Linked DNA regions of Homo sapiens: region 1 is linked to region 2. Evidence: fine-mapped expression QTL. A gene starts in region 2. The other region holds a variant in brackets. All regions are shown on one strand. Distances are between the middles of the regions. Region 1 overlaps RUBCNL (rubicon like autophagy enhancer). Region 2 holds the start of RUBCNL (rubicon like autophagy enhancer).

Region 1 (5,375 bases), 35 kb before region 2:
TCTCGAACTCCTGACCTCAGGCAATCCGCCCACCTTGGCCTCTCAAAGTGCTGGGATTACAGGTGTGAGCCCCTGCGCCCAGCCGCTTCACTCGCTTTATGATCCATTTGCCTCTTAGAGGATGTATCTGTGGGTTCCCCAAGCTAGTGTGATGTGCATTTCCTGCCACAGGACACTTCCAATGAGAGGGATGGGGTTGGGGCTGCGGCTCACCTTCACTCTGTCCAGCTCCTTGGCTTTCGCATACAGGCTTTGGCCGATGCTCAGCAAATTGAAAATGGGCTGGTGCCATATGCTGTCGAGCAGCTGTTTGGAGAAATTGCTGACGTAGTACTTCTTGAAGTCCCACATCATCAGGATTCGGGCAGGGATGCACGACTCTGCATATGAGTGGCAGCAGTCACAGAAATACTTCCCTAGGTATTCGCAGTACCGGAGCCGCTTCACAAACTCTGCCAAGCATACCGGAGGGTGAGTGCCACACCTGGTGCTGAAAACCTATCCTGGTATACCCCGACTTCCAATTCCTACGCAAGATTCAAAGACTCTGATGACTTGTTTCATGATGATAAAGCCATACTCAACCTCATGACAGCTGGGAAGGCTCCAGCAGAGACTTGGGGAATTAAATCATGGCCATTCATGAGCTCTGCTCTTGTGGAACAGACGTCAGAAAAACAAAACCTTCCCAAAATACTCCTGGATTTGGAAGATGGAAATTGCAAACTGCAGTGTAGCAAAAGGAACATTCATTTTAGGATCTGGAAATCTGGGTGGGAGTCCAGACTCCTCTCACTAGCAGGAAGACTGAAGGCAGGTTAGGCTAACTATTCTGAGACCACAAAATGCAACTCAGAACTGGATCGAGTGTTATTACACATAGGAAAAGTGCTTTATAAATTGTGAAGCAGTATATATACAATGTTAGGAAGCAGCATCATAAAGACCTTGATAAATCAATGAGAAAAAAATACAAAAATGCACAAAGGATGGGAATAGGTAATTCACGGAAAGAAGAAATGCAGATAACTAACAGAGAAAAACAATCTCAGAAACAAAAAAATGCATATTTTAAAAGTGAGGCTGAGCACAGTGGCTTGTACCAGTAATCCTAGCACTTTGGGAGGCCAAGATGGGAGGACTGCTTGAGCCCAGGAGTTCAAGACCAGCGTGGGCAACATAGTGGGACCCCATCTCCACAGAAAAAAAAAAAAAATTAGCCAGGCAATGTGGTGTGTGCCTGTGGTCCTAGCTACTTGGGAGGCTAAGGCAGGAGGATTGCTTGAAGGTGGAGGCTACAGTGAGCCATCATCATGTCACTGCATTCCATCCAGCCTGGGCAACAGAGCGAGACCCTGTCACAAATTGATGACAAATAATAAAATTAAATTGAAATGAAATGAAAGAAAAGAAAAGTGAGATACTCTGTTTTGACTCAGCCTGTCATAAATTTAGAAGACCCAGAACTGGTGCAGTATCTAGAGGAGGGCACTTACGTCTAGCACTGATAGAACTAATTTGTAGGAAGACATTTTTGTGATAGACTTCAATTCTCACATGTGTAACAGTAATCCTGCTTCTGTTACTCCATCAGACAGAAGTGCTAACAGGCACACATAGTGATATAAAAAGGTGTTCATTACAGCACATTTATAATGGGGGTGGCAGCCAAAATGTCCATCAAAAGGCAATTGGTTAAATAAGTATGGTGCACTCAACATGAAATGCTGTACAGCCCATAAAGTACACGGAAGAGCATAGGAAGTGGACATCCAGTTACAAATAGGTATAATGTGATCTCAATTTTATTTAAGAACATATATATAAACATACACATAAACATATATTCACTGTCTAAATCCCCACCAAAAAGCCAACAGTGACTATTTCTGGAGGGTAGGAGAAAGAAGGAATTTTTGCTCTTTACACTTTTTTTTTTTTTTTTTTGAGAAGGAGTCTCGCTCTGTTGCCCAGGCTGGAGTGCAGTGGCATGATCTCAGTTCAGTGCAACCTCTCCCTCCTGGGTTCAAGTGATTCTCCTGCCTCAGCCTCCCCGGTAGTTGGGACTACAGGGCGTGCCACCATGCCCGGCTAATTTTTGTATTTTTAGTAGAGATGGGGTTTCACTATGTTGGCCAGGCTGGTCTCAAACTCCTGACCTCAAGTGATCCACTCATGTTGGCCTCCCAAAGTGTTGGGATTACAGGCGTGAGCCACCACGCCCACTGCACTTTCTAACCTACTAAAATAAACACTCATTGACCACTTTTGGAAATGTGTCTAATAAAATACATTAACAAACAAAAGGTATAAAAACTAATGCAACAAATACCTGTGCACTCACCACCCAGCTTCAGAAAGAAAACAATTCAGTTGAAGTCTTCTATGTGCCCCTCCCTCAACACTAGGTTCTGACATGAACCAAGTTTGATATTTATCATTCATAGTTTGAGTCATGTACGTCTTTGTAACTAAAATACCATACAGCATAACAGAAATCTTAGTTGCCATATACTGGGAGGATTAATGAAATCATGGATGGGAAAGCAGCTGCTGTAGAACCCGTACACTGTAGATTCTGAAGATCATTTCCAAATAATGGCTTTAAAAATAAACAAGGCCTGGCCGGGTGCGGTGGCTCACACCTGTAATCGCAGCACTTTGGGAGGCCGAGGTGGGCAGATCACCTGAGGTTGGGAATTTGAGACCAGCCTGACCAACACGGAGAAACCCCATCTCCACTAAAAATACAAAATTAGATTGGAGTGGCGGTGCATGCTTGTAATCCCTGCTACTTGGGAGGCTGAGGCAGGAGAATTGCTTGAACCCGGGAGGCAGAGGTTGCAGTGAGCCAAGATTGCGCCATTGCGCTCCAGCCTGGGTGGGCAACAAG[C/T]GTGAAACTCCATCTCAAAAAAATAAAAATAAAAAATAAACAAGGCCTGGCTGGGAGCGACCACAGAAATGAATCTTGCTGAGTACTTACTCTGTGCCACAGATCAGTTAAATGTTTTACATTTACTATGTCATTCTGTGCTCGAAAGTCTGTGAGAGAGGGACAGTTATTTCCCCTATTTCACTGATGAAAGCACAAGACACTGAAGTTAGGCAACACGCAGGGCCACACGAACAGTATGTAGGCAGGCAGGATTCCAACCCAAGCCTGGACTGCGAAAGCTCCAGCCCACAGCCATCATGTCCCACTCCTCCTCCGCTGCATTCGATGGTGGGAAAGGGAGAGGGAGCTAACGCCTTTGCACTTGCCCAAATTGTCCCTCAGACCCAGGTCACACTCTGAGTTGATGTTTAAAAGCAAACAAATAAAGAGTTGTTTTTTGTTATTCATGATAGTTATGTTCTCTAGAGTCGCCATGAACACTGAATTAGTCAATACTGAACCACTGCTCCTGGGGGAAATTCAGGGTTAGGCACCTGTGAGCTTCTGGTAGCAACAGTTTCATCTACTCCTCAACACACACTCAATATCCATTCACTCATTCATCAAACTTCATTGAATACATGCTGTTATACTATCAATACAGAATACACTAATGTCCATCTTTTTTAATTTCCTAAGTCCTTTAACTAAAACAGAATACAAAGTGACCTAAACCAGTGGTTCTTGGCCAAGGGTGATTTTGCCTCCCAAGGGGCATTTGCAAATGTCTGGCGCCATTTTCAGTGGCCACTGGGAGCTGCTTCTGGCACCTACTGATGCTGCTAAACATCCTACAGTGCACAGGACCCCCCACGACAAAGTCCATGGTACTGAAGTTGAGAAATCCTGCTCCAAAACACAATTGTCCTCATTTTATGAAAAGTCAGCATCAGGGGGTTGGGTGGAAGAGAAATATTCTAGAACAGAGATGTCCGGTATAACTTTCCATGGGGATAAAAGTGTTCTATATCTGTGCTGTCCAATACAGTAGCCATGAGTTACATGTGGCTATTGAGTACTTGAAATGTAGTTAGTGTGACTGAGGAACTGAATTCTTAATTTCAATTAATTTAATTTTAAATAGCCAGGTGGACTAGTGCTACCATACTGCATAGTGCAGTTCTAGAATAAAGCTAACTAAAGAGAATCAATAACTAAATGCAATGTATGAAATTTGATTGCAACCTTGATGGAAAAAATAGCCATAAATGATACCTTAAGAACAAAAAGGACTAGGAAGTAGACAATATAGAGAATTGTTTTTAATTTTTTTGGTGTGATAACTTGTTTCTTATCCTTATTTTTGGGATATACTGAACTAGTAAAGGGTAAAATGTCATGTTCAGTGTGTGGAAATTGAAGGAGACTAAGGAAAACATGACAACTAAATTCTGAAACAGATAAAGGATGTTACTGAAAACCTGGTGAAATCTGAATAAAGCCTGGGGTTTCATTAATAGGACTGTACCCCATGCTAATTTCTCAGGTTGAAACTATGATTATGTAAGATGTTAGCAGTAGAGGAAGCTGGGTGAAGGGTGTACAGGAACTCTCTCTACTCTTTTTGCAACTCTTCTGTAAATCTAAAATTATCTCAAAGACAAAAGTTAAAAAAAATGTATCCTAGAAGCTAGAGGAATTTAACAGGAAAAGCCCAAAATTATTTCTATGCTGTCTACAATCTGGGCCCCGCCTACATCTGCAGCATGTTTTCTCCTCCTATTCTTACTCTCTGGCCACACAGGGTTTCTTTTACTTGCCACAGGCCCTTTGCACATGACGAACACCCCTACTTCTGTGGGCAATCACTTTCCGATGAAACCTCTTACTCCCAGCTTCTCAAGCTCAGATGAAGTTCCCTTGCTGTAAATCCCACGGCACTCTTGACTCTTTTGTTACGTACATCACTTTGTGTTACATACACTTACTTGGCTGATGAGTGTATCTTCCCTAAAAGATGATAAGCAAGCTCCCTGAGGGCAAGGCCACTGTACAAAAGTGCAGACACACATCTCCATACCTGAACAAGCTTAGGGAAATAACAAAAAGTTGGTGGAGCGATAGTCATATGTGTACAGTTTCTGACTCATGCATTCAATATTTACAGAAGCGCCAGGATACAGTGGTTAACCAAAGAGACATGTTCCCCACTAGATGTGCTGGGAAAATGACTCATTCAAAGAAAATCAGCAACAATGGTGATGCCCGTCAGGCATTATCATCCAGTGTAGGAGAGGAAGCCCAGATCGATTCCTGCTTGCTATTTTTATCTCTTGAAGTAGGAGCTCCTCATAGTCTTTTTCCTTCAAAAACCGACTATCAAAGGCTAAGGGAACTCTTTCCACAAAGCTCCTCTTTCCAGCCTTTTGCAGGTCAGACATACAGGTACCATCAGAGCAGAACAAGTGATTCCCAGTCTCAAGGGGGAAACTTGCATTTC
Region 2 (5,375 bases):
GAGAACGAACAGAATTGTAGCACGTGTATCAGTCTGGTACACAATGTCCTATGAAGGTTAGCTTTATTATCACCATCATTATTATTGCAGAAAGACTTTCAGTTCAGAATAAGACAGCACAGTTACAGAGACCTGGTTTTATTTTCCAGCTTCTTAACTGAGTCATCTTTCAGCTCCTTTTAATTAAAAAGAAAAAACAATCAGAGATCTAATTGGGTATCAGGAAGATACACAATATGACTAACAGGCACTAATATTACTACACTTATAGTCTCTGGAAGGCTGGACATACTTATCCAAGAACTGCCTAAATTTTTACAATGACACACCATGCTAAATCTTCCATATTAGAAATTCCATATTTCTCTCCATACTAGAAATAATCGTTCCATATTAGAAATAAGAACGTAGATTTGGTAACAAGGGAAACTATTCAAATTTGCCAGTGCTATTATTTGTGTGCCTTCAGATGGGTGGGGAAAAAATGTGTCAGCAAGCAATGCAGCCTTTCTTTAGTTTTTTACTTATCCTCTAAAGATCATGCAAAAAAAAAAAAAAACCAACAAACGTTTACTCTTGGATGTTTAACCTTGGCTCCGACAGAATGTTCCTTGTATCAAAAAACAAGAACTCAGCCAACAATGTTTTTGTTGTTAAACGGTTGCATGAAGACTATGTCCAGTCAAATCTAACCCCTCACCCCGCTCCAAGGCTATGACCCTCAATTTTCATCAAAGTTCCTACCATCTCCCACTTTGTAAAGGCCCTAAAGAAGTTAATGAAGAAGGCAAAGTTCCTGTCCTCTGCTGTCACTCAGTAATGAGCAGTTTCATGTGGCAGTGCAGAAACTGGGGTTTGAGAAACAGAGGTGTCCTGACACTCTGGACCGGTAATCACGAAAACCCCAGCACTGCCATAAAGATGCTGTCTTAACTCGGCTCCAAACAAAGTTCTGTCGGCGGCCGGCAGTGTTTCAGTGGGCAGCAATGTGGTGATACCTTCACAGGATACTTTATAGGCTTCAAAACACTTCCCTCCCTCCAGGCCATTAACCTTCTAAACCACACAGTGGGGTATGGCTGGAGTATTCTCCCCCTGAGGCAAGGGAACTGAAGTTCAAGAAGGTTTCTTGACTTGCCAAGATCTCCCCGCTACTTTGGCTTTAAGAAACTGGGTCTAAGAAACTCAAGCTTACGGATTCTCTGTTCTCTGCGCGCTCCCACCACATCTTCAATTCAAAGATCCTTCCAAATTCCACAGAAATAACCCAGTAAGGGCAGCTCTTGAGTATACCTTTTCCTTTGAGTCTTAATTTTCACTCAAGGCGAAATAACCCCTCCTCTGAAAGTTCTCCACGTTTTCCAAGCGGACAGCATCAAGTTCGCAGGGGATCTGTATCAGTCTCAGCAGGTGGACTTCACAAGGGGCGGGTTGGGGGAACGCCCGCCTGACCGTGTCCGGCGTGGCGGGGGGTTGGGGGCGAGAAGAGTGGGGGTTGCTATGTAGGGCGCCCGGACCAAATAACACGCCGCGATTTCACACTCCAGCCTAGCTCAGTTATGTAGCCAAATGTTTTTCTGTCACCACATATCCACGACTTTGGCTGTGTTGAGGACGAAAACAGAGAAAAGACACTGATCCCAGAACACTGCGCCTGGGAGGACGCAGGGCGCAGGCTTTGTAGTCTCTGAGAATCGCCCTGCGTAAAAGTGTCCTGAGGTCCCGCTTCTGCGCCCTTCCCGGCCCAAGCCGAACACAGGGTCAACCTCACTCTACAAAGTCAACCGGATAGAAATCCGCCACCCCGCGAGGAGCCCCTTCCTACTGTCTCCAAGGGGTCCCCGACACTGCTCTGAGCGACCCTAAGATACCTGGGTGTCTCTGCTGGGCACAAACCTCTCTGGCGCCACTTCCACCATCCAACCTCTCCCGCGGCCCTCCCTTCCCTTTCTCCAACCACCCTCTCCACCCCGCGCCGCTCCCATCTCGCCCCCGGCCCCGCCAGCCTCACCCAGCCAAACCCGAGCGGTGGAACGCTGCGCTGGGTAAACGCCGCGCGTCGGGTCCTCCCTCGCGCGGCTCCGGGCAGCGTTCCGTGGCCACCGCGCTCCCGGTAACAGCAGAAAGGGGAGGGAGGAGAGCTACCGAGGAGGGGACAGCGACGCCCCGACGCCGCCACGCCCCCCGCCTCCCACACGGGGGCCACCGTAGCTCTCTAGAAGCTCCTCAGGGAAGCAAAGCGCCGTTCCCGCCGCAGGCACCGAGACGTCGCCCAGATGGAAGAAACTCTGGAGATGCGCGCTCCTACACCGGTGCCGCGGCGCCCGGGCCCAGCACCACGCACCTATGCGCGCCTCTGCCGGTCCTCCTAGAAATCCCGCCCTGCCTACCCGCGGCGCGAGACGCAACGACGCTTTCAGGGGTCAAAGACCTGGCAGAAATGACTTCCCAACCCCAGATGCCCCCAGCAGCAGTATTTAGCAGTCATACAATTGCCTGAAATGAAGAATGAGTAATCTGGATGAGTCGGCCCTGAAATCGACCTGCAACTTACCCGGAACGTGAGCTGTCTCTCTCTGACCTCTGCTGGCTGCTTCACCTGGAGTCTGAGTCCGACTCATGTAGCACTTCACTGTCCGCGTTAGTTTAGCCTTCACTGTCAGCAACTCGTCACCTTGTCCTCTTGCAGCGAAGGTTTGGAATCCCATCACGGGTGTGCAGTGGTTAGTCCTGAGATCATGGTGGTGCTAGGAGAACCTGCCAACCAATACAGAAAGTTGTCACGAATAGAAACCTAAGCTCTGGCCGGGTGCGGTGGTTCAAGCCTGTGATCCCAGCACCTACTTTGGGAGGCCAAGTCGGATGGATCACTTGAGGTTAGGAGTTCGAGACCAGCCTGGCCAACATGGTGAAAGCCTGTCTCTACTAAAAATATAAAAATTAGCCGAGCGTGGTGGCGGGTGCCTGTTATGCCGGCTACTAGGGAGGCTGAAGCAGGAGCAACCCGGGAGGCGGAGGTTGCAGTAAGCCGAGATCGCGCCATTGCACTCCAGCCTGGGCGACAGAGCAAGACTGTCAAAAAAAAAAAAAAAAAAAAACAGAAAGGAGAAGAAGGGAAGGAGGGAGGGAGGGAGGAAGGCAGGCAGGCAGGCAGGAAGGAACCCAAGGGAGGGAGGGAGGGAAGAAGGAAGGAAGGAAGGAAGGAACCTAAGCCAAGGAAGGAAGGAAGGAAGGAAAGCAAAGAAAGGAAGGAAGGAAGGGCGAAGGAAGGAAGGAATCTAAGCCAAGGAAGGAAGGAACCTAAGCCCAGGAAGGAAGGAAAGAAGGAAGGAAGGAAGGTAGAAGGAAGGAAGGAACCAAAGCCAAGGAAGGAAGGAAGGAAAGAAAAGTAGAAAGGAAGGAAGGAAGGAAGGAACCTAAGTCCCAGAAGGAAGGGAGGGAGGGATGGAGGAAGGAAGGAAGCTAAGCTCTCTCTCGCGGTGCCCTGACTTCTCCCGGGGAAGGACCTCTGAGCTGCCTGCACTGGTAATGACACGTAGGTGAACCGGTCCTGGCTTTCTTAGAAGATTCCCTGCTGCATAAAACCAAATCCCGTTGCACTTTCCTGGGTTCCTTGGCTTTGTCCTTTGTCATTTCCAGGATGGAGCAGAGGCACTGGTAATTTGGCTTTTACTTGCCTGGTACCTCTGGCATGGAGTGGCTAAACGGTGGCACCATGTACTAGTTGCTGCCATCTTCAGATAAAATATTGAATCAATATGACAAAAGTCAGATGAATACTAGCTGCCAATTACCCTGCTTCCCTTGGGGGCAGCCTGTTTGGAGCATAGACCAGCTTTGACCTGCAAGAACTCTGGATATTTGGAATATTTAAAATTCCAAATACAGTATCCCAGGAATTCAGGTCAGCTGAAGGCCGATTGGGAAGGGCTTACCTTAAATGAATCAGAAAGAAAAAGGTGTGGGTGTGTGCTAACATTTTTTGAGTATCGGCTATGTGCCAGGTACTTTTTCTTATTATTTTAAGCAAGTCTGTGAACATCCCTGAGAATAACAAATCATTTGTTCCCATTTCGCAAGGGGGAAATCTATGACTTAGGTTCAAATAACTTGCCCAAGGTCACAGAGCTAATAGGTAGCACAGTTAGGCTTTGAAGGCAGGTGTATCTGACACCAAACCCTATGTCCAATTTCCACCATACTACCAGCAAGATGGAAGAATAATGAAATAAAGGGACCAGGCAAGAGCCAGTTTCAGGAATACTTAAAGGGAAAGAGGAGTCAGGAGGAACTTAGAGAAAGAATCTTGAAACAAGAGGAAATGTCATGCCAGGTAAATCAGTGAGTCAAAAACCAGAAACAGCTGTACTAGTTGGCAGACTGGACATAGTCCAAGGCAAGAAAATCGTTTTTGTAGGGAGATTAGGATATTTTGGACCAAGATTGTGGGCTTTAGTCATCCCCTCTGAAGCCACTCTGAAATCACCTTTCTCAAAACTGCCATAAGGCAGGCCTAGGCACTATCACGTGGACATCCTACTAACTCTGAGTATAGACCTTCTACATCTCGTCACAGACGCAGGAGGTTCACATTCTGAAAGAGCATCTCTAGGACTAAGGAGAAACATTCAAGGACAGGTTTTTCAAGTTAGGAATGCTCACTGGAAATCTGCTCTGTCCCCTCTGGGATCTGGAAGTAGAATTTCCCAAGCACTAAATGCTGAGGCGTGGACTTTCCAAGAATTTCCTGATTGGTTAATTCTGAGAATGTCACTGATCATTACAGACGGATCACCATGCAGGAAAAGGAGAGGCTGGTTTGGGTTTTTTCATGGGGAAGGTGAACTTCCAGATCACAGTGCCCTCCAAGACACAGGGCTTGAAAGTCATGAGTGTCAGGGACAACTCACTGTGTCAGCTAGCCCAGCCGGGCTCATGCCCAGCACCCATTGATCACACACAAAGCTCCATTGTGGCCAGGATAGCCTCATAAAAGACCGAAAGCCTAGCAGCTGCCTGCCAAAACCCAGCCAGGCTTCACAAGAAGTGATTTGTGCTGTGAGCAGAGCTTTGACCCCAGTTTTGAACTCAGCTGACAGTCAGCAAAGGGGAAACCAGTCTCTGTACAAAACAGGAAGGAAATGAGATGAAATGAACTGCATTATAAGCTACCAGAGGGTGCCTAATGGCATCTTCACCACATAGAAGTCCCAGGAAGAAAGACTGATGATTTTGCATGGGAGAGAAGCCCAGACAAGCACCAGGGAAGGAAAGAACCGAGGAAAGCTGCATTTGGCTTGGCTGTTTCTCTTCCTCCTTGCCTGACTTAACAGCCACTGTCTGCAAAAGGACACATCTGTGTGAACCCACTTGCA

Evidence for each region.
Region 1: its variant is fine-mapped to the expression of RUBCNL in whole blood (TOPMed, PIP above 0.99).

The regions. Positions count from the first base shown.
Region 1 is chr13:46,349,900-46,355,274 of GRCh38, forward strand. RUBCNL (rubicon like autophagy enhancer) reads right to left here. Exons shown (of 15, transcript NM_025113.5): 11 at 214-452. Among named protein-coding and RNA genes, the nearest start is that of RUBCNL, 35 kb to the right of the region's middle. The variant C/T (reference allele first, on the strand shown) is at 2,894.
Region 2 is chr13:46,385,123-46,390,497 of GRCh38, forward strand. RUBCNL (rubicon like autophagy enhancer) reads right to left here and starts at 2,130. Exons shown (of 15, transcript NM_025113.5): 1 at 2,012-2,130. RefSeq lists enhancers at 1,897-1,986, 2,367-2,646, 2,677-2,776, 2,797-2,906, 4,670-4,809 and 1 more.